Linked DNA regions of Homo sapiens. The protein of the gene in region 1 interacts with the protein of each later gene in a biochemical or structural test. Each region holds a gene or a part of one and is shown in the gene's direction. Other genes may lie near its edges.

Region 1 (6,903 bases):
CTCTCACTTCTCCCCTTCCCACCTAGTGGGGAGAACATATGGCTTGGGCTGGCAGAGCTGTCCTTGTGGAACCCAAGCATTGGGTCCTTGCCCCACGGCCCCTCCCAACCCTCAGTCCCCTCAGTCCCCTCCCAACCCAGCTCCCTCAATCCCCTGTCCTGGCGCCCTGCCCTGAGGGCCTCATGCCCCTGGGGTGCAGGATGCAGAGCTGGAATCTCAGAGGCCAGGGCAGGGCCCGTGTTTGGGGTCCACGTCACTCCTGGCTGGGAAGCAGGCATCGAGCGACACTTGACTCCGGTGACCCCCATGCTCTGGACCTCCACCTCCTGTGTGCGCTTTGTGGGCAGTTGTCGGGAGGGGACCCCCCATGCTGTGGACCTCCGCCTCCTGTGTGCGCTTTGTGGGTGATTGTCGGGAGGGGAGTGGTGGTGACGCCGCTGCTCCTGCCTGGAGGGAGTGCCGTGGGGGCTGGTGAGGGTCCACACTGGGCGGAGTTAGGCTCCAATTCCTCCTCGGCTTCCTGCTGTTAGGCCTCGTGGAGTCGCGTCCCTGCCGGTGCTTGCCCTTGGCCCATGACGGTAACCGCCCAGCACTCTGTCCCCGGGGCCCTGAACTCCGGAAACCCCACTGGGTAGGCTGTGCGTCCCGCCTGGGAGGATGGGGTGTGGGACGCGTGGGTGGGGGACGGTCCCCGCAGTGGGGAGGGGAGGTGCCGCGCCTGGCCTCATGGGCACTGCAGCCACCCTGGGTGCAGCTCCTCTGCTTTGGGACCTTGGGAGGCATTGGTCCCACCCCCACTGCTAGTTCATCTCTTAAAGTGAGGGTGCAGCTCCAGGGCCCGAGGTTTCCCCAACCAGGAAGGATGTCCTGGACCCGGGCTCAGGTCTCCTGACCCAGCACGTGGCTGCCCAGAGCCCTGGCACCAGGGTGCACCTAGAGGAGGGGCCCCACGCTGATGGCTTCTGCAAGGATGGGGACCGGGGACAGCTCTGGGCAGTCAGTGAGGGAGCTGCTGCTCAGGGGTGGACACAGGGAGGGGGTCGGCTGGCCAGGGGGGCAGAGCTTCTGCATCGGGGCAAGGCTGGCCCAGGAGAGGCCGTGGGGAGATGTCGTCAGCCCCGGCAGAGCCCCTGCAATGAATGGAGCTGTGGCTTTGAGCGGGCAGAGGGGACGGGAGATGCGAGGGGCTGTCATCTGCCAGTGTGAGCAGGAAGGGATGGGGACTGATTCCTTCCCCAGATCAGCGCAGAGCTAGGGTTAAAAGAAAGCGGGTGCTGAGGGCTATTTTGGGCAGACACAAAATGTCTGTCATTCATATTTTAAGAGATCCATGAATAAAAGATGAAGTCTCCTGGCCCGAGGCTAAGTGTAGGGCTGGTCTGAGGACTCTGCGTCTCTGCCTTCCCGCCGTCGTCTGGGTCCCATCTCACTGTGTGGACGGCAGATCTGAGAAGGCGCCTGGTGTGGCCTTGCGGGTTCTCTGTTCCTTTTAAGGCCCAGGTCGCTGTCCCATGTGAACATTCGGCCAGGTGGGCGGCTGCCTTGGCCGGCTGACCACAAGGAGTGCAGGCGAGCTCCCGAAGATTCCCACGGTTAACTGAGGGTGAGAAGCTCCGCGGGCAGCCGGAGCCTGCCTGGGGTGGACGTCAGAGATGAGAGTGTCCTGGCCCGCCCGTGCCCTTAGTCAAGGCCCAGCTTGGTGGTTTGGAGATCCCAGGACTAAAGGAAATAGCCAGCAGCACTCAGGAAACCTCCTCAGTTCCTCCACCTGTCCATGGGGGACTGCAGTGCTCGTTGGCACCCCCCGCAGGTGCAGGCAGGGCAGGATCTACGGTGGGTCCACGCCCCTGTCCCCAAGTTCAGTCATCAGGAGGGCAGGTGCAGCTTCCCACTGTAGCACAGCGTGCGCCTTCTTCTAAAGAGAGGACCTGGGGACATGTAGGCTTGGGTGGGTGACTCAGCCTTCCTGGGAAGTGGTGTGTACTGCGGGAGTGGGACTGGCTGTGCCTGCCAGGGTCCTTTGGCCCGAAGTGTGAGGTGTCTGCGCAGCCTGCCCTGGCCAGGCAGGTGGGGTGGAGACGCTGTATATCGTGAGACGTGTTCCTGGCTGACCACTCCCTCCATGTCCCATGGAGCCAGGAGGAGCTGCAGGAGTCACCAGATTCCACACGGAGCAGCTTGGGGCCCGCGGTCACAGGACGGTCAGGCAGTTGCACTGCTTGTCCGGGGCGGTCACAGGACGGTCAGGCAGTTGCACTGCTTGTCCAGGTCTCGCCTCCATGGCCACAGTGCAGCTTGGAACTTGTGGTTCTGCAGTGGTTTGGTCACCTCTGGCCACCACGACGTCTGCTCTAAGAAGGGAGGAGCCAGCCTCTGCCCACGGGAAGGTGTTTAGGGGATGCTGGATGCTGACTCACGTGGCTTCTCTGTGTCCACAGCAGGGAGAGCAACAAGCCCCGGCCCTCAGAGCTCAGCCGGATGAGCGCAGCCCAGAGACAGCAGCTTCTGTGAGTGCACCTGCCCACCTCCTCAGGGGTTCAGCTCCTGAGTGCCCTCACCCTGCCCACCCTCTCCAGGGGTTCAGCTCCTATGTGCCCTCACCCCGCCCACCCTCTCCAGGGGTTCAGCTCCTGAGTGCCCTCACCCCGCCCACCCTCTCCAGGGGTTCAGCTCCTATGTGCCCTCACCCCGCCCACCCTCTCCAGGGGTTCAGCTCCTGAGTGCCCTCACCCCGCCCACCCTCTCCAGGGATTCAGCTCCTGAGTGCCCTCACCCCGCCCACCCTCTCCAGGGGTTCAGCTCCTATGTGCCCTCGCCCCGCCCACCCTCTCCAGGGATTCAGCTCCTGAGTGCCCTCACCCCGCCCACCCTCTCCAGGGGTTCAGCTCCTATGTGCCCTCGCCCCGCCCACCCTCTCCAGGGGTTCAGCTCCTGTGTGCCCCCACCCCGCCCTCTCCAGGGGTCCTGAGTGCCTCCAGCCTGCCCTCCCAGGGGTTCAGCGGCTGAGAGCCCCGCCCGTGCCTCTAGTCCCCTCCACGCTGCTCCGCTGGCTCCTGCCTGTCTGCTCCAGGGGGGCTTTTCAGTGCAGTCAGGTCCTGTGGCCCTGGGTCAAGTCCCGCCTCCCAGGAAGGCTTCCAAGGGGAGTCATGGATCTAAAATGATGGGTGGACGCAGCCCCATCTCCGCCCCTCCCCTCCGCTGGCTGGTTGAAATCTGGATGATACGTTTGGTTCTGTGACTGGGCACTGCGGCCCCCAGTTAGCAGGGCTAGGACACTGATTTGCAGAAATTTGTACTCAGTTGTCCTCTTGGGTACAAAAATCTCCAGACCACGCACGCTCTCTTGCCTCTTTGCAGACTCAGCTCCAGTTTCCACTGAGAGAGCCACATTTTACGCCCTTGTAAGATGGTTTTAGTTAGCTGCTGGGATGATTTTTCCTGTGGTTTGAAATGGCTTTACTCAGGTGTTTATCAGTGGGAGCGTTTTGTGTCAGTTCTACCGAGGCCCATTGTGCCTTTCCAGTTGAGAGTCTGAAGTCTGTTTTGTGAGTTCGATTATGCTTAGAAGCTGCTGTCTGTTTTGTGAGTACAGTTATGTTGGGAAGCTGGTGTCGAATGGTAGCTCCAAAGATTTCTTTATTGTCTCGGCCCTTCTTCAGGGGCACCAATTATGCACTTACTGGATCTCTCTAATCTATCTGTCTTCCATCTCATGTTCTCTAATCCATTTTTACTCTAGACACTTTGTAGGGTCTAGGTGAAGTATAGATAGTATAGTAAACTGTCTTTTTTAGTTTTTTAAAAAGTTTTTATTTTTATTTTTTAGAGACAGTTCCTTGCTCTGTGGCCCAGGCTGGAGTGCAGAGGTGTGATCAAGGCTCACTGCAGCCTCCGCCTCCTGGGCTGCAGCGATCCTCCTGCCTCGGCCTCCTGAGGAGCAGGGTCTTCCCGTAGATCTTTGTGTTTGTCCTCTTTGGTTTCTGCTTCTCTGTTTATGAACTGAGTTCTTCCCAGGCCAGTCTTGTCTGGAGACAGTTTGCGAACAGCAGAGCCCTCTCCGTGTGGCCATCGTCCTGCCTGGCCTCCCTCTCCGCCTCTCCCCAGTGCACAGCCTGGTCCGGGGAGCCCCTCCCTGCCTGGACAGGGCGACGGGTTTTCCTCTTGCAGACTGTCTGTCGCCCGCACCCCTCGGTGCCCCCATGTCCTTGCGGTCGCGGCATTTTGAAGCAGCTCAGGTTAACGGGTCTCCTGGTTTCATCAAAGATGGAGTTTGGTTTCTCGCTGCTTCTGAGAGGAGAGCAGGAGGCCCCTTCCTTGTTCACTCCGTGTTTTGGAGCCAGAGGTCTGTTCCCTTTCATGTCCATGGTGCTTTCTGGCGCCTGTGGACAGGGCTCAGGTGTTTGAGTGGCTTGGATCCTTCGATCCCAAGATCCCAGTGGGAAGCAAGAGTGTTCCCCTCCCTGGGTCATGCTCCCCTGGGGGCTTCATGTTGGGCATGAGCCTTGTAGCTCCTGGAGCTGGTGGTCCGTGCCCCAAGGCTGCTCCCCTGAGTACGAAACCAAGGAAGGGCTTTTCTCTCAGGTGGGAGGCCCCGTCTATGGGTCTCTGTTTACGGTTGTCCAGGATGGCATCTGGAGGCCTGGCCCAGCATGGGAGCCACACAGTGCCAGGGGCACCGAACCCGTGTCCCATAGTGTCTAAACTCAGGCGCAGGCACAGGCTCCCCCTGCAGCCCCTCCCCGTGCAGCTTCGCTTCCAAGCGTCACTGTCACGGCTCCTTTCCTTCCCCAGCTCTGACCCAGGACTCTGCCCAGTGGACCACAGTGCTAAGAACCTGGCCTGGGCCTTCCCCTGGCCTCGGCTCCTCAGTTGCCCCAGGTGGGGCCTTGTTGGGTCCTGGTAGCCCCAGAGATCACTAGTAATGTCCAGGCTGTGACTGGGGCATTTCACCCTGACTTTACGGGGACAGCCCCAGCTGCCATGCTGGGGCCAGGGTGGCAGTGGCAGGAGGAGGTGGTGGTTAGTGACCAGCAGAGCCCTGACCGCCTCCTGCTGTGGAGACGGCCCCAGCCCCACTGTCCTCTGTGGCTCTGGTGTGTGGGCACCCCGCCCAGGCGGTCGTCCAGCGGGGTGTGAAAGAGCCTTGTCAACTGCCCAGGAAACCAGGGCCAGTGTGGTCCAGCCTTGCACAAGGCTCCGTGCACACGGGGCACACAGGCCGGAGGGGTACAGGCCCCACCTCCCCGCCACCAGGCTCAGGGCCTCTTGGCAGCTGCGGCAGAGCCCGTCTGGGAGCTGCCCCCGAGGCTTCTGTGCCTGAGAGGGGACCCAGGCCACCTTTTGTGTTCCACAGGGCAGCTCTCTGGCGTGCGGCTGGCTGCGCGGGGTTTAGAGCAGGAGCTGAGTGGCCGCCGGGCTGGGTGGCGGCTGGGGTGAGCTGGTGCCATGCTGGGTCGTCGCCGTGGCACCCATCTGGGGCTGCCGCGCCCCACTCTGCTGCAGGCCTCTGCCGGCTCAGGCTCTCGGCTCTCGGCTCTCGGCTCTCCTCTGTGTGCACCTATTTTGGTTGCCCGTGGAGGGAGCCGTCTCTCATGTAAGGAGTGAGTCTGCAGGGCTTGGGAGTTGCCGCCGCGTTTCTCAGCCTTGGCGGCAGCCCCATCAGCCCCAGACTTGCTGGCTGGGTGACACCTCAACGGCAGACCCCACAGTGGGCGCTGCCAGGGCTCTGGGATGCACGTGGCCACGAGGAGGGCCCGGGGCAGCCTCTCCCCTCCTGCCGGAAGTTTCCGAGGCCCCAGTACTCAGTCCCGTGGTGGCCCCAGGCCTCTGCCATTCATTTCGGTGTCTGACGTTTCCGGGTGTTGAGGGGCTGAGGGGTCCGGGGGTTCCTGCCTGCTGATCTGTGGTCTCCATTCTTTCAGCGAGGAAGAAAGGACCCGGTTTCAGGAGCTGCTGGCCAGTCCGGCCTACAGAGCCAGCCCCCTGGTGGCCATCGGGCAGACGCTGGCCCGGCAGATGCAGCTGGAAGATGGCGGCCAGCTCTGACCAGGGCAGCGGGCATGCCACAACTCCTCAGGACACATGTGGGCCAAGTAGAGAGCGCCGGCCCCTCAAGGACCATGGCCTGAGCCTGGTGGACGCCCTTCCCTCTGGTCGGTTGTGGGGCTCAATAAATGGCTCTGTGAACTTCCCCTGCACTGCCAGGGCCGTTCCCATGAGCTGCTTCCCTGATTCACAGGGCTGGGCACACCCTGGGACAGCTGCCCCCACTCTCCTCAGGACAACAAGCCACATCCCTCCACTGGGGGCCCCAGCCCCCACGCAGTCAGGGTGGACCGTGCACAGGGTTTGTGGGGACTGCAGTTGTGGAGGCCCCAAGTCCGTCCCTGAGCAGGCGCTGGTGCCCACAAGATAGTCTGCTGGCTGTGTTGGGAAGGAATTGTGCCTGGGTGTGGCCCCAGCTGTGCCACCAGCCGCCCTGATTTGCTTCAGCCTCAGTTCCTGCTGCGGCCCTGGTAGGATCCAGGAGCACTGAGGCCTGCAGGGGCTGCCGTGGGGGCTGGCTCAGGGCCTTCACCACCTGGGGGTCTGTTTCCCTTCCAGTCTCCCCTGCCATCCTCAGTGACCAGGGACACAGATGGCCCTGGCAAGGCCCCCGGCCTGCTCCTCGCCTGTGGGCTGCACCCCCCCTACCCCACCCGTTGCCCTCACCCTACCCAGCTGCTCCACACCCAGGCAGCCCACTGCCTTGCTCTGGGGGCGGAGAGCAGAGGGTCCTTCTGCAGGGAGGAGACGCGGAGTGGGCCCAGCCCTGAAGCTCTTGCTGACCCGGAAGTGAGAGAGGTCCTCCTTTGTTGCTGGAAGCCCTGGGATTTGGGGGTTGGTTTTTGGACTGTGAATCAG
Region 2 (7,458 bases), on another chromosome or scaffold:
CCACTGGTGTTTACCTTTTCCCTTCAAGGATCGGGGTTAGCAGCTTTATAGATAACGGCAGTCCTGATCATAAACCTGACTGCATTTGCACAAAACAGTAAAGATAGCCTATCCTTTCCTGCATTAAATCCTGGTGTTTGCTTCTCTTCTTTACTAATAATTGCCCTTTGTGACATTTTTTTCCAGAACAGGACGTTTTTCATCTGCACAAAAAACCTGTTCAGGCAGATATTATTTCTCCTCAGTGATTTTCTTAATGGCATCTGGGAACTTGTCTGCTGCCCTTTGGTGAGCAGAAGCTGCTTCTCCTGTTACCCTGACATTTTTAAAGCCACCTCTTTCTAACATTATCGAAGCATCCTTTGCTGGCGTTAAGTTCTCCAGCTTTAGATCCTTCATTTTCCTTTTGCTGTAAGTTGTCATATAATGACTTAATTTTTTTCTCCATCATATTAGACTCTATAGATGTGTCTTTCTTAGAACAATCCTGCACCCACATAAAAGCTGCATTTCCAATTTGAGATTGTCAAGAAAAGAATCACAAGATCTATAAATTTGGAGAGGAAACTTTATTTCTTAGAAAGGGTTGCAGTCTGCAGGGTGGCCATTCTGACAGGCTGGAAAGTATAGCCTTCAGCAGAGACCAAAAGCAGGCACTCTGAAGGAGGAAAGGATGAGACAGGAATTTATGCTGAATGCGTTGGCCAAGTATACTTATTTAACAGGTTATAGGAGGAGCTCTGAATATAAGAGGGGTCCTAATGCTTGTATACCGAGTAAATGTACAACCCCTGGTCGCTTTGGGGTGGAGACTTAACATTTAAAATACCTGACAATTAGATCCTGTATGTTACAAGATGAAATAGGGACAGGGACATGACAACTGAATGCACTGCCTCTGGAAGCTGGTAGTACCAGTCCATGGTCAGTGATCTCTTATCAGGAGATGTTACTGGGATCAGTCTCTTGTCCAATCAAAGCTGTAGTTACTGTTTGTGGAACAGAGTGTGGGAAGAGGGAAGCTGGGGTCAATCTGTATCTAGCTGTTGGTGAGCTGTAATTGTTTTAATATTGTTTATCACAAGGCCAGTGCTTGTTAAGCTGCTAGAGAAAAAAAAATATCCTGTGGCAATTAGAATGTCATTTACTCTTTAAGTGTAGGGTGTATGACTTAACCCTTGCCCAGGTGGTCTTAGGTCTTGTTTACAATTTGATATCTTATTGCCACAGTCTGTTCTGTCTTGCCTGGGCGCCTAGGGGCTTTATTTTTATTTTATAAGATAAAGGGGTATTTGGCAAAACTGCAGGTGTATTCATATCTGCTGTTATAGCTGCAGTGACAGCTTCATGAATTTCCTTTTCTTTTTTTTACAATGGTCCTATGGTATAGTCATTTATCTTGAAGTGGTGGGCAACTGCAACTGCAGGCCTCAGTCAACAGTACCTATCAAGCAATTCAGCTTTTTTCTTTTTTTTTTTTTTTTTTTTTTTTTGAGATGGAGTCTCCCTCTATCGCCAAGGCTGAAGTGCAGTGGTGCAATCTCGGCTCACTGCAACCTCCACCTCCCGGGTTCAATGGATTCTCCTGCCTCAGCCTCCTGAGTAGCTGCAACTATAGGCATTTGCCACCATGCCCAGCTAATTTTTTTGTATTTTTAGTAGAGATGGGGTTTCACCGTGTTAGGCAGGATGGTCTCAATCTCGTGACCTCGCAGTCCACCCGCCTCGGGCTCCCAAAGTGCTGGGATTACAGGTGTGAGCCACTGCGCCTGGCCAGTTCAGCTTTTTCTTGTACTGTCATGACTTTTCTGTGCTGCTTTGGAGCACTCCCAACATCACTAGTGGCACTTTATGTGGGACCCACGTTGGGTGGGTCCTATGGTCCCAAAGCTTACAATATTGCACTAAGATTAAAAATAGGCAAGAACTGCGAGAAATCACTTTCTACTGTGATAGACAGTTTATTGGAGAGTCAAAACTGCTTATGGGAGATAATCAGCATCACATGTGATCAGCATCACATGGCATTCTAAGTGGATACTTGCAACACCTGAGCTCACCACAAGAGCAATAGGTGGTGGCTGTGAAGTTGTCGTACAGTATGCACTACAGTTAATTTTATGGAGTTATGATTTAATACTGCATCTTTGCATTTGTTTCCATTTCTCTTGACTACAAATGGCATCATATATGGCTTGTGTTTGTGTGCGTAAGTTTTAATTTTAACTTTTTATAATAGATTTGTGTATATTTTACGGTAGTAAATAAGATAGACTAGTACCTACATACAGTTTATGCATTCATGACGTAGCTTTTTCTTAATTTTTTTGACATTTCTACGATACTTAGCTCCTCTCTGGGTTTTTTCACATCTCCAAAATATCTTCCAGTATATGTGTTGAAAAAAATTTGTGTGTAACTGGACCTGTGCAGTTCAAACCTATTATTCAAAAGTCAGCTGTATTACATCTTGTTTATCCAGTCACAGTAGATGGACTTTTGGGTTGTTTTCAGTTTGTGGCTATGAGAATAATGTTGCTACTGAATTACTTATATCTTTTGTGTTTTCTTACAAACTGAATTACAGACTACTTGAAATTAAGAGATGTACTATCTCTTGCTTTTGCTGTAGACAGGCTAGTTGGAAATCCACGTTTAACAGTTTATATTAATTATAATAAAGCTGTTAGATGGGCTGTTGTGTACCTATAAAAGTTATTTTTGATGAGTTGCCAATAACCTGGCAAAATACAGTAAGTATAATGTGAGCCAGATAGAAAACTAAAAACAATTGGTTCCAGGTATGTTTAATACAGCAGATGGGAAATGATGTTGCCTCTGTGTCTTGAAGCCTCCATTCCTTTCCAACTATTGCCCCATTACTTTGGTTCTTTGTGCAGCAAAACTACTCCCATCTGTTCTTGTTGTCTTTATTTCCTCATCTGTCATGCTCTGTTTTAAATAATTTTAATCAAAGTTAAACATACACATAGTTTTAAAAAGCCAAATATTGGCCGGGCGTGATGGCTCACACCTGTAATCCCAGCACTTTGGGAGGCCGAGGCGGGCGGATCACAATGTCAGGAGATCGAGACCATCCTGGCTAACACGGTGAAACCCCGTCTCTACTAAAAATACAAAAAAATTAGTCGGGCGTGGTGGTGGGCACCTGTAGTCCCAGTTACTTGGGAGGCTGAGGCAGGAGAATGGCGAGAATCCGAGAGGCGGAGCTTGCAGTGAGCCGAGATTGCGCCACTGCACTCCAGCCTGGGGGACAGAGCAAGACTCCGTCTCAAAAAAAAAAAAAAAAAAAAAAGCCAAAAATTTCTACTGCCTACCTCCATTTCACCCTTTTCAGGGGAACCAATTTCAACTCTTTTAGCTTATCTTAAAAAATTATTTGTCTCTGTATTTCCAGATATTTTGTTCATATACAGCCTCTTATTTTTCAGATTCACTATTGACTTTCTACCATCAAAGATGAAGATTTAGCTGTCTTTCACCCCCTTACTTCCACTGCACACACTCAGCCTTTCTGTCACTCCGATTTATTCTTCTCTGTCCTCCTGATGGTCCCCTTGTGGTTTTTGTTAGATTCGTGTTCAGTATTACCTGAAAACAGAAATCAGTGCTCAGTGTACTTATAGCTGAGCCAGGTGAAATACTGTGACTGCCTTATCTTTCTTTTGCAGCATTGTTTTCACTTGAGGAAGTAACTCTTATGTGTCTATGTCCTTTCTTCATTTTCGTCGTACTAATTCAGTAAGAAGCTATACGTTGTCTGTATCTCCTCTTGATGTATTCGAATGCATCTAATATTTGAGAAATCTCTCCTGGAGATGTTCTGTTCCAAAAACGCCCCCATGCTTTCTGCGTGCATTCTGGCTGCACAGCCATCATCCTGGGTTCCCTGTCCCCTGCCTCTTGGAGTCTCTTTCCCAGAGTTCTGCTTCTTGATATTCCTGCTGCTGATTTAGGCATCAGTTGACTTCGGTCTGCACAGTCAGTTCCATCTCCTCCATCTGCTTTCCACCTTTTTGGACTTTGCTACTGTTATTACTCTCTTCTTCCTTTTGGGCTTACATCTTTCCTGTCATTTTAGTGGAGTTTGAGGAAGGAGCATTTGTAAATGTTTGTTTTGTTCATCTGCAGGTGTCTGGAGGAAGAGCATTACAGAGGAAGGGGAAAGCACAAAGATCTTGAGTTGAGGGCACATCTGGCAGTGAGCGAGGAGGCTTGACCAAGGATGAAAGGGAGAGAGCGGAGAGTGACAGATGAGTCAAAAATAATAGGGCCTCACTGAGGTCATCATAAGGACTTTGGCTTTTACTCGGAGTGAATAGGAAGTCATTGGATGATTGTGAGCAGAGGAAGGGAGGTGGGATGTGAGGGGGCGAAGGGCAGTGAAGGTGAGTAGGATCCATAGATGGGAGGTCCTGGGGTAGGGGTGAAGGATTATTTGTGTTGATATGAGTGGAATGACAGAAAGTGGTGAAGGGAGAGTTGGATGTTTGAAATCGAAATTATGGGGGGGTTGCAGTTTTTGGTAATGACCAAGTCCAGGGTGTGACCATGGATGGAAGAGGCTGGAGTAGGGTGGAAAACAAGACCCCATGTTGGCATAAAGGATATCAAGGACCTGAGAGGCTGGCATGTTGGGATTATCATCTTCATGGGTATTGACATGATCGAGCATGGTGATGGGGAATAGCAAGAGAAAGCAAGCCAAGAGCTAACATCTTCACAGGTGATCTGTAGGGGCAGCTGAGGACCGCAGCCAGGCAGGGTGGTGGGTGATGTGGCCTCAGAGCAGATCCAAAGCCAAAGGGTTTTTAGGGAGGCAAGAGGGAGAGCATGTGGTCTGGATGTGGCATGAAGACACCTGCTCCTCCCCCAGGCCCAGAGGTACCTGGTTTGTGGAGGAAGAACTGGCCACCATTTGAGATCTGGCCTTAGTTGAAGCCAGAAGGTGAAGGGAATATTAACAGGGGTTGAAGATATAGAAGCTTTAGCTGATTTGTACAGGGCACAGTGAAAACAGTTTGGAAGATGGACTCAAAAAGGCAAAATTGTATCTTGTCAGTTTTGTCATTCAGTAAAGAATGCCCATTAAAAGGGTCTAAATGATCCTCAGAGCCCTGAAGAAATTTAGATAATCTTTAGGAAACTTTGCAGTTGAAAACCAATTATGTTGAAATTGAGTACAGTATTGCATTTATGGGTATTCAGTAACCAGCTCTGCCAGTGTGTCGTCTTGGGCAGGCTTTTTGATTTCTTATAAACTTCTCTCCTCATCCGTAAAACAGGAAGGTCATGTGAGGATTAATGAGGGCATGCATAGAAAGCCCTGGCACATAAAGCACTCATAGGATGGGAGCCATCATTAACCAAGAATCTTCACAAATTTTTCTTTTTCAAACAATTCTTTGTCTTTTCTAATAATTTTTTATTGGGATACAATTCATATACCATAAAATTCACCCTTTTAAAAAGTGGTTTTTAGTATATTCATGGAGTTGTGCAGCCATAACCACTGCCCTCATTAAAGAATCTGACTCAAATATCATGATTTTCCAGCATTTTTGGAGTACAGGACTTAGGTAAGGAAATGCTTTTTTGTCTACAATGTCTTTTTTTTTTTTTTTTTTTTTTTTAAGAGAGAGGGTTTTGGTCTGTCACTCAGGTTGGCATGTTGCACTCTACAGGCACGTGCTACTACACCCAGCTAACTGTTGAATTTTTTTGTAGAGATGGCGTCTCATTATGCTGTCCAGGCTTGTCTCAGACTCCTGGCCACAAATGATCTACCTGCCTTGGCCTTCCAAAGTGCTGGGATTACAGGTGTGAGTCATTGCATCCCAGCCACTAATTTGTCTCATTTTATTTCTTTCAGGAAAGTTCACATCCTTGGCTCCTTCCAAAATATCAAGATGGCAAGAACTGCCATTTGCAACCTAATCTTGGGTAATAGCAGTTTCTTTCTTTGGTGTTTTCTCTGGGAGGGATAGGAAGTTAATTGAGGAAGTCAAAACCACATTTGCAAAGCAATTTAGGGTAATATTAAAGATCGCAAGTAGAAACCCTTGGGAGTTGGCAAAGGTGGGCCTAGAGAAGGAAGTAGAATTTTTTTTTTTTTTTTTTTTTTCTGAGCCAGAGTCTCGCTGTGTCGCCTAGGTTGGAGTGCAGTGGTGCGATCTCGGCTCACTGCAACCTCTGCCTCCCAAGTTCAAGCGATTCTCCTGCCTCAGACTCATGAGTAGCTGAGACTAAAGACGCCTGCCACCTTGCCTGGCTAATTTTTGCATTTTTAGTAGAGACGGGGTTTCACCATATCGGCCAGGCTGGTCTCGAACTCCTGACCTTGTGATCCGTCCACCTCAGCCTCCCAAAGTGCTGGGATTACAGGCGTGAGCCACCACGCCCAGCCAGAAGTAGAAATACTTTTGCTTAGATTCCATTTGTCTGCAAGAGAAGAGAAGGTGTTTATTGGGTAATATTGCTTAAATCTTTGCTGCCTTCTTGATAAGGTGCAGAGAAAAACCATTCCAGAATAGCAGGGAACATCACATTTTAGGTTTAACAAAGGAAGAGCTGCTGAACAGCTTCAGGCAATTTAATTGATCCACTTAACCCATTTTCTTGATCCTGCAGCAAAGTCAGTACTTTCTGATAAGAGTTGCAGGATCTTAGCGGCTTGCTCAGAAAATTGGGATTTTCTGGTTCTCAGGCCTCAGTGATTGGCTTCTTTTTGAAATATTTTAACAACTCAGTGCCTTTCGCTCTTAGAAGTTTAAAATATTTTTTGGAGAATATTTGGGTATTATTTCTGTTAAGGTTTTTTTTTTTTTTTTTTTTTTGTAATTTCCAATTAAAATGTCTCTGTTCTTTTTAGGGTTCTAGACCCTTTTTCACGTACAGTCTGCCCTCTGTCTGCAAGGTCCACATCTGCGGATCGAACCAATGGCAGATCAAATACTCAGAAAAAAAATATATAAAAATAATGGCAAATTAAAAATAATACAAATTTTAAAACACAATACAGTACTATTTACATAGCATTTGCATTGTATTAGGTATTATAAGTAATCTAGAGATGATTTAAAGTATATGGGAGGATGTGGGTAGTTAATGTGCATATTTTTTATGTAAGAGACTTGAGCATCCAAGGATTGTGGTGTCTGTGGGAGTCCTGAAACCAGTCTTCCTTAGACACTGAGGGACAACTGTAGGCGCTATAAATGTGAGTTTATTTGTGTATATACTTTTTTTTCCCCTTTGCAGGAAATCCTCCTTCCAAGGTTTATGGCAATATTCGAGCTGTGGCTAGCAGATCAGCAGATCGATTCTGATTTCAAGTCAGAGACTTTTTATCTTGCCTTTGGACTCTGGTGAAAAATACTTTACAGTGGTCGGTCACAAGAAACCAGCTGAACAATTTCAGTCATTTGAAGCCTCCGT
Region 3 (8,125 bases), on another chromosome or scaffold:
TCCTGACCTCAGGTGATCCACCCTTCTCGGCCTCCCAAAGTGCTGGGATTACAGGCATGAGCCACTGTGCCCGGCCAGCCCACATTATTTTCTTTGCCTTGAACACTCTTCCCTAGTTCTTCACAAAACTGGCTCCTTCTTATCCTTTAGATCTCAGCTAAAATATTGCATTGGCTGTTCCATAACTCTACATAAGAGGGAAAAGGGGCAGCAATCTGATTAAAACTGTGAAGAGGGAATTCTTAGGGGATCTGTCTCAAAGCTGCATTTGCATAGCAAACACACTGTCTTTACTTAGATTAAGTATAGACCAATAAAAATGTCAATGTTTTCTAAAATGCTTTTATTCATACTTTATATAAGATTAAGAAAACATCATCTGTCCATAAAAATATAATTTGGAGTACCCTGAGGGAAGTGGCAAGTGTTTCAAAGAGGATGGAGAGGCTGACAGGGACTAGAGAGTTTTTCTTATTTTGGCGATAAGGGTCTATTTGCATCTTTTAAGTAGGGGCATGCTGTGGCCTAACTTAAGTGATTAGATGAAGTGAGACTAAAGACTAAAAGGTCAGTAAAATCATTATTATTATTATGACATTTGTTAAGCATTTAATATGTGACAAATACGTTGTCCCTCAGTATCTGGGAAGGATTGGTTCCAGGACCCTCATGGATACCAAAATACAAAGATGCTCAAGTCTGACATAAAATGGTATAGTATTTGCATATAACCTATGCACATACTCTTATATACATGTTTTGTTTTTTTTTATTTTATTTTACTTTACCTTACCTTACCTTACCTTACCTCACCTCACCTCACCTTACCTTACCTTACCTTACTTTACTTTACTTTACTTTATTTTTTGAGACAGAGTCTCGCTCTGTCGCCCAGGCTGGAGTGCAGTGGCGCGATCTCAGCACACTGCAAACTCCACCTCCTGGGTTTTAAGCAACTCTCTCAGCCTCAGCCTCCCGAGTAGCTGGTATTCTAGGCACCCACCACCACACCTGGCTAATTTTTGTATTTTTAGTAGAGACGGGGTTTCGTCATGTTGGCCAGGTCTTGAACTCCTGACCTCAGGTGATCCACCTGCCTCGGCCTCCCAAAGTGCTTGGATTACAGGCGTGAGCCACCAAGCCCGACCTTTATATACTTTAAATCATCTCTAGATTACTTATAATACCCAATACAATGTGAATGCTATGTAAATAATTATACTGTATATTGTTTTATTGTATTCTTAGTATTGTTTTGGGTTTTTCTTTGTTGCTCTTTCCCAAATATTTTCTTTTATTTGTTTTTAAAAATAGAGATGGAGTCTCACTCTGTTGCTCAGGCTAGTCTTGAACTCCTGGGCTCAAGTGATCCTCCCGCTTTGGCCTCCCAGAGTGCTGGGATTACAGGGTAAACCACCATGCCAGGCCTATTATCCCCATTTTAAAGATGAGAAAACAGCCTGGGCGGGGTGACTCACGCCTGTAATCTCAGCACTTTGGGAGGCCAAGGCGGGTGGATCACTTAAGGCCAGGAATTCGATATCAGCCTGGCCAATGTGGCAAAACCCTGTCTCTACTAAAAATACAAAACAAAAACAACAACAACAACAATTAGCCAGGCGCGGTGGCGCATGCCTGTAATCCCAGCCCCTCAGGAGGCTGAGGCAGAAGAACTGCTTGAACCCGGGAGGCAGAGATTGCAGTGAGCCGAGATCGAGCCACTGCACTCCTGCGTGGGTGACAGAGCAAGACTCCGTCTCTAAATAAATAAATAAGAGGAAACAAAGGCACAGAGAGTTAAGGGACTTACTCAAAAATTATAAACTAGGTCGGGCACAGTGGCTCACGCCTATAATCCTAGCAGTTTGGGAGGCCGAAGCGGGTGGATTGCCTGAGTTCAGGAGTTCGAGACCAGCCTGGGCAACATGGTGAAACCCCGTCTCTATTAAGATACAAAAAATTAGCTGGGTGTGGTGGCGTATGCCTGTAGTCCCAGCTACTTGGGAAGCTGAGGCAGGAGAATTGCTTGAACCCGGGAGGTGGAGGTTGCAGTGGGCCAAGATCACGCCACTGCACTCCAGCCTGGGTGACAGAGCGAGACTCCGTCTCCCCCAACCCCCCCAAAAAATTATAAAACTAGTAAGTGACAGAGCTAAGATTCAATCCCAGAGTCCAGCTTTAAAACTCAGGTTCTTCATCATGAAATGTATTTATTCGTTCATTCTTCATATTTCATGAGTATGAAAATGCTATAATGCTCCCCCTTTCTATAAGATTACTGCAATACCACAGGCTTCAAATTGCAAAGGTCTGAACTAATACAATGGCAAACATGATGGAGAAAGGTAAGGAGATATTTGAAAGAGACTCAGGGAAGTAAAACTGATAATGTGGGCAAACAGCTGTGGAGCATAAGGGGGAGGGGAATCTAAGATGACTCTCAGACTTCTGATTTTACTAACTGGGTAGTTGATGGGCCAATCATACAAATGGGAAATTCAGGAAAGGAACTCTGGTGGAAAAGATAGAAATTATTGGTCATTTTATGTTTGATGTGCTTGTGGGGCAAAAAGAATAGCCAGGAGGCAATCAGATATACCAGTCTGGAGCTCAAGAAAGAGATTAGGGCTAGAGATATAAATTTTGTTCTCATACAGCTGTTAAAGGCAATTTCACTTAGGAAGAGTATCTGTAATAAATAAAGAGGGCTTAGAGCAGAATTCTCGGAAACATCATCATTTAGGGAGTAAGCATATTAAAAGTATATTAAAAGCATCCAGCAGAGAAGACTGAGGAAGATGGTCATAGGGCTGATACCAGGAGAGAATGGTGTCATGAAATCTCAGGATGGAGTTTCAACAATGACAAAATTGTCTTTAATCCCACTAGAAAGTAAGCTCTAGGAAGCAATGGGACATATCTGCTTTGTTCACCAATGTATTCCCAATGCCTAGAGGCTTGGCACATACTAGATGGCCAAAAATATTTCATGAATAAGAAAACAAATCGGCTGGGTGCGGTGGCTCACGCCCATAATCCCAGCACTTTGGGAGGCCATGGTGGGAGGATCACCTGAGGCCAGGAGTTCGAGACCAGCCTGGCCAACATGGCGAAACTCCATCTCTGCTAAAAATACAAAAATTAGGCTGGGCGCGGTGGCTCACGCCTGTAATCCCAGCACTTTGGGAGGCCGAGGAGGGCGGATCACGAGGTCAGGAGATCGAGACCATCCTGGCTAACACGGTGAAACCCCATCTCTACTAAAAATACAAAAAATTAGCCGGGCATGGTGGCATGTGCCTGTAGTCCAGCTACTCGGGAGGCTGAGGCAGGAGAATCACTTGAAACAGGGAGGCAGAGGTTGCAGTGAGCTGAGATTGTGCCACTGCACTCCAGCCTGGGTGACAGAGCGAGACTCCGTCTCAAAAAAAAAAAAAAAACAAAAATTAGCCAGGCGTGGTGGCGCATGCCTGTAATCCCAGCTACACGGGAGGCTGAGGCAGGAGAATCACTTGAACCCAGGAGGCGGAGGTTACAGTGAGCCAAGATCGCGCCACTGCACTCCAGCCTTGGCAACAAGAGCGAAACTCCGTCTCAAAAAAAAGAAAAGAAAAGAAAAGAAAAGAAAAGAAAAGAAATCAACAGTTACTAAATGCCACACAAAGTTCTGGGAAGCCAAAGACTGAGAGGTATCCGTTTTATTTAGCAACTTTGGGTGTCGCTGATCTTGTCCAGAGCAATTTCTGTGGAATAATGGGGCAAAAGCAAAATGGGAATGGATTACAAGAATGAAAAGAACGGGCCGGGCGCCGTGGCTCACGCCTGTAATCCTAGCACTTTGGGAGGCCGAGACGGGTGGATCATGAGGTCACGAGATCGAGACCATCCTGGCTAACACGGTGAAACCCCGTCTCTACTTAAAAAAAAAAAAAAAATTAGCCGGGTGTGGTGGCAGGCGCCTGTAGTCCCAGCTACTCAGGAAGCTGAGGCAGGTGAATGGTGTGAACCCGGGAGGCGGAGCTTGCAGTGAGCTGAGATCGCACCACTGCATTCCAGCGTGGGCGACGGAGTGAGACTCCGTCTCAAAAAAAAAAAATGAAAAGAATGTTCTTGTCTATTATTTTTCTACAATCATTAATTAATATATATATATATTAGGCCGGGCCCGGTGGCTCACACCTGTAATCTCAGCACTTTGGGAGGCCGAGGCGGGCAGATCACTTGAGGCCAGGAATTCTAGACCAGCCTGGCCAACGTGGCAAAACCCCGTCTCTACTAAAAATGCAAATATTAGCCGAGCATGGTGGCGGGTGCCTGTAATCCTAGCGACTCGGGAGGCTGAGGCAGGAGAATCGCTTGAACCCGGGAGGTGGAGGTTGCAGTGAGCTGAGATCACGCCATTGCACTCCAGCCTGAACGACACAGCAAGGCTCTGTCTCAAAAATAAATAAATAAAATTCTTAAAAGTTGATGGGAGAAAAAAAGTTGTTTAAAAAAATTTTTTTAAGTTGATGGGAGGTGAGGAAGCGTAGTTACTGATGGCCCCTTCTTGGATAAAAAAAATCTTTTGACTCAGGAAATGAAGAACAAAGCTGCAATTACAAGGGATCAAAGGCGATTTTTCCTTAAATGGAAGGAAACTTGTTATGTTCACCATCGGATCTCCGGGGCCCGGCACAATCTGGCCACTTAATAGGCATTCAATAAACCCCCGAGCTGGCTTGTGGTCGGCTTGCAGGACGCCGTCGCACAAGGACGGGCGCTGTAGTCTTTCCTTCTGGATTCTGCAGTGACGAATGAAGGCGCGGGCTCAGCCCCTGAGAGCGCAGCACCGTCGCCCTAAGCTAACCCACCTTGGGCCACGTGGAAACCAGGGGCCAGGAGGACAGACACCCGCGCGCCAGAGAAATACGGGGTGGGTGGAGAAAGGAATGCCCCACCCGCTGACAGCCGTTTCATCTCAGGCCTCCCAGTTTTCTGCAGGCCCCTCCCTACACGGCTCCTGCTTCTCTCACGCCTCGTACGGAACGGAAGTGACGTGTACGTCGCGAGCGATTGACGGAAACAGAAATTGCTTTGCGGCCCGCACGGAAATTGCTTTCCTTCGGCTTCCGTTCTTGGTCCATGTGAGAGAAGCTGGCTGCTGAAATGACTGCGAACCGGCTTGCAGAGAGGTGAAGGGCAACGAGGGGAGGGGGGATTCTGGGTCTCGTTGGGGGCCGGGTTCCCCAGCTTTTGGGAAATGGGAGCCCCCCCTTTAACAGATGGCAGTGGTTCCCCTGAAGAGCTGGCCATTCGTTCCTATTTTCCGCGATCCAGCCTTTAAAGCCCTTTTAATTTAATTTCATTCGCTTACTCCGCTCCTCAGCTGTATAGCCGCATCCCTGTTGGTCCTGATGCTGTTTCTGCCTCCCCAGCTCATTTACTGTGTTTCACATTTTTCGTCACGTGGCCCCTTTTTCTGCCTCTGTCGCGGCCCGATTTAATCCTCTGCGCAGGCAGTGCAGGCGTTATAAACTCCCCGAATCTTGGAAAGCTTTGCTGATTGGAGTCATCCACCACGTTTTGGCTCCTGTGATGTTTTGTGCCCCCCCCACCCCGCCCCCGGAACTAAATGTAGTCCGTTTAGTAATGTTGGCTTTGCAAATACTAATAATATATGCTGTTAGGTAATGGTACATTTTATAATTTGTTTGTGGGTACCAATCTCCTTAGTTAAGCACCTACTTTACTAAGCAAGCCCCAGGGAAAGTGGCTTACCCAGCTGCTTTCGACCTGTTTCTCCATTCCTGGGAACAAGGATCAAGATAACACTTTTGATTAGGCTGCCTATCAATGAGTCAAATATATGGAGGATGCTTAGAAATATTAATCGTGAAACTGCCTTGCCTCCAGGGCTAGCTAGCAACAGCGTCTTTGGCCATATTATTCTAGGGTCTGACATTTTTACAGCTTCCCATAGGTCATAGGAAATGTTGTGCCAATCCCTGAAAAGTGATAGCTCTTTTACATGCAGTTTTGAAGTCAGGCATCACTCTTGGAGGTGATGCCTGACTTCAGTCTAAATTTCACATCTTGACAAGTTTCCAAAGGCATTCACGCTGCTTTATATATCTTCTGAGGGATAGGGCTATTCTGTGCTGAAATTACAATGTTTTCGAGATTGTTTTAATAGATTAGACATTGCTTCAAATAATAATATTTCTTTTTTTAATTTCGACTTTTATTATAATTAAGGGATACATATGCAGGTTTGTTACATGGGTATATTGCATTCACATTTCTCTGTTGCCTCTTTTAACAGCCTTCTGGCTTTGAGCCAACAGGAAGAACTAGCGGATTTGCCAAAAGACTACCTCTTGAGTGAGAGTGAAGATGAGGTGGGTGACAATTGCTAAACTGCCTTCAAAATTAGGGTAGAGAGCACATTCCTGGAATGGAAGGGTGTGACAATGTTCTATGTATTTGTTCAGGTCTCTCAAATAAATTGCAAATGGTTAGTGTTTCATATATAAGATACTGTATCATATTAAGTGCTATGAGGATTTGGAAACTAAGTTACAATCACTACCCTCAAGTTGCATAAGTATAATTTATAAGACCAACCAAAACAGGCCCGGGTGATGGCTCATGCCTGTAATCCCAGCACTTTGGGAGGCCAAGGCGGGCAGATCACAAGGTCAGGAGATTGAGACCATCCTGGCTAACACAGTGAAACCCCGTCTCTACTAAAAATACAAAAAATTAGCCAGGCGTGGTGGCAGGCGCCTGTAGTCCCAGCTACTTGGGAGGCTGAGGCAGGAGAATGGCATGAACCTGGGAGGCGGAGCTTGCAGTGAGCCAAGATAACACCACTGCACTCCATCCTGGGCAACAGAGCGAGACGCCGTCTCAAAAATAAATAAATAAATAACAAGAGATTTTACATGAGACTCAATTTCCATGTTGTCTTTTCCCTCCCCCTCATCCTGATTGTTTTTCCTTTTCTGTGTCTTAGGGGGACAATGATGGAGAGAGAAAGCATCAAAAGCTTCTGGAAGCAATCAGTTCCCTTGATGGAAAGAATAGGTAACGTTCCCGTCAGTTAGGGCAGGTTATATAGTCAATTCCGTGAGATTTCTCTGCAGCTAATATTTATTGAGTGCTTCATGTAAAGACCTTAATACCAGTGCCTAGCATATAGTAAGCATTATATAATTAACTGTTAGCTGTTATTAGTCTTAGTGCTATTATTGTAAGCATTTGCAGTCTTATTCCACACTGAAAATCTTTTAAAGCATTGAGTAGGCATTATTTAACCCCATTAGAGAAATAAATTTACTTACCCCCAAGGTCACCTGGCTCATAAGTTACAGGTTCAGGTGTGTTTGAATCTAAGTCCAATATGTTTTCCACTATGCTTACCTTGTAATAAAGAGAAGAGATGAGGGTTAGACAACCAAGTCCAAGTTAGGAACAGATCTCCTTGCTGCATCATGACAAAACATGACCCTAGAAGAAATACAAGAAACCAAAGCCCTGTTTGAAGAGAGAAGTGTTTGTCTCTCCCAACCCCAAGCCCCCATAAAATTTATTCATTCCTATTATATCGTTTTGCCTAATTTCAGGCGGAAATTGGCTGAGAGGTCTGAGGCTAGTCTGAAGGTGTCAGAGTTCAATGTCAGTTCTGAAGGTAAGTTGAACAAAGGAAGATACCCATGCATGAAACCTGTGGAGTTCCAAGGGCATTGTGTTCACCTCACCCCCCCTAGGAACTGTTTTTGATGTGGTTAATGACTCATACCATAAATACCTGGGAGAGTGGGTGAAGAAGTGTAGTCAGATGCCCTTCAGTTTCTTCCATCTCTCAAAGAAAGCCTAGAAGGCTGTGGTCAAGGTATCCTACAGAGTTTGATGAGATACTTATAGGATAGATGGACATGAATAAAGACAGCTGCCTCTTAGTAACTTAGTCATAATTCATATTTGTACAATTTCATTTTTATTTCAGTTCTCTTAACAATGCTTTGAGTTAGGAGACAGGCAAATATTCTCTTCAGCCAGAGCTCAGAGAGGTCACATTACTTATTCAAGGGCCTTTGCCTAGTACAGTATTTCTCAACCTTTGCTTTTTTATTGCTCCCCT

The links. The genes of interacting proteins can lie anywhere in the genome.
Region 2: the proteins of SLX9 (region 1) and PNO1 are reported together in a solved structure, tested with the Homo sapiens proteins (one study listed by BioGRID).
Region 3: the proteins of SLX9 (region 1) and UTP14A are reported together in a solved structure, tested with the Homo sapiens proteins (one study listed by BioGRID).

What each region holds. Positions count from the first base shown.
Region 1 is NC_000021.9:44,970,759-44,977,661, forward strand, and holds the end of SLX9 (ribosome biogenesis protein SLX9 homolog), read left to right. Parts: intron 1-2,438; coding exon 2,439-2,507; intron 2,508-5,921; coding exon 5,922-6,045; 3' UTR 6,046-6,215; downstream 6,216-6,903. UniProt on the Homo sapiens protein: May be involved in ribosome biogenesis.
Region 2 is NC_000002.12:68,167,454-68,174,911, forward strand, and holds part of PNO1 (RNA-binding protein PNO1), read left to right. Parts: intron 1-5,893; coding exon 5,894-5,964; intron 5,965-7,281; coding exon 7,282-7,349; 3' UTR 7,350-7,458. UniProt on the Homo sapiens protein: Part of the small subunit (SSU) processome, first precursor of the small eukaryotic ribosomal subunit.
Region 3 is NC_000023.11:129,901,063-129,909,187, forward strand, and holds the start of UTP14A (U3 small nucleolar RNA-associated protein 14 homolog A), read left to right. Parts: upstream 1-5,101; 5' UTR 5,102-5,148; coding exon 5,149-5,174; intron 5,175-6,201; exon of another isoform or gene 6,202-6,304; coding exon 6,305-6,380; exon of another isoform or gene 6,381-6,997; coding exon 6,998-7,068; exon of another isoform or gene 7,069-7,491; intron 7,492-7,607; coding exon 7,608-7,672; intron 7,673-8,125. UniProt on the Homo sapiens protein: May be required for ribosome biogenesis.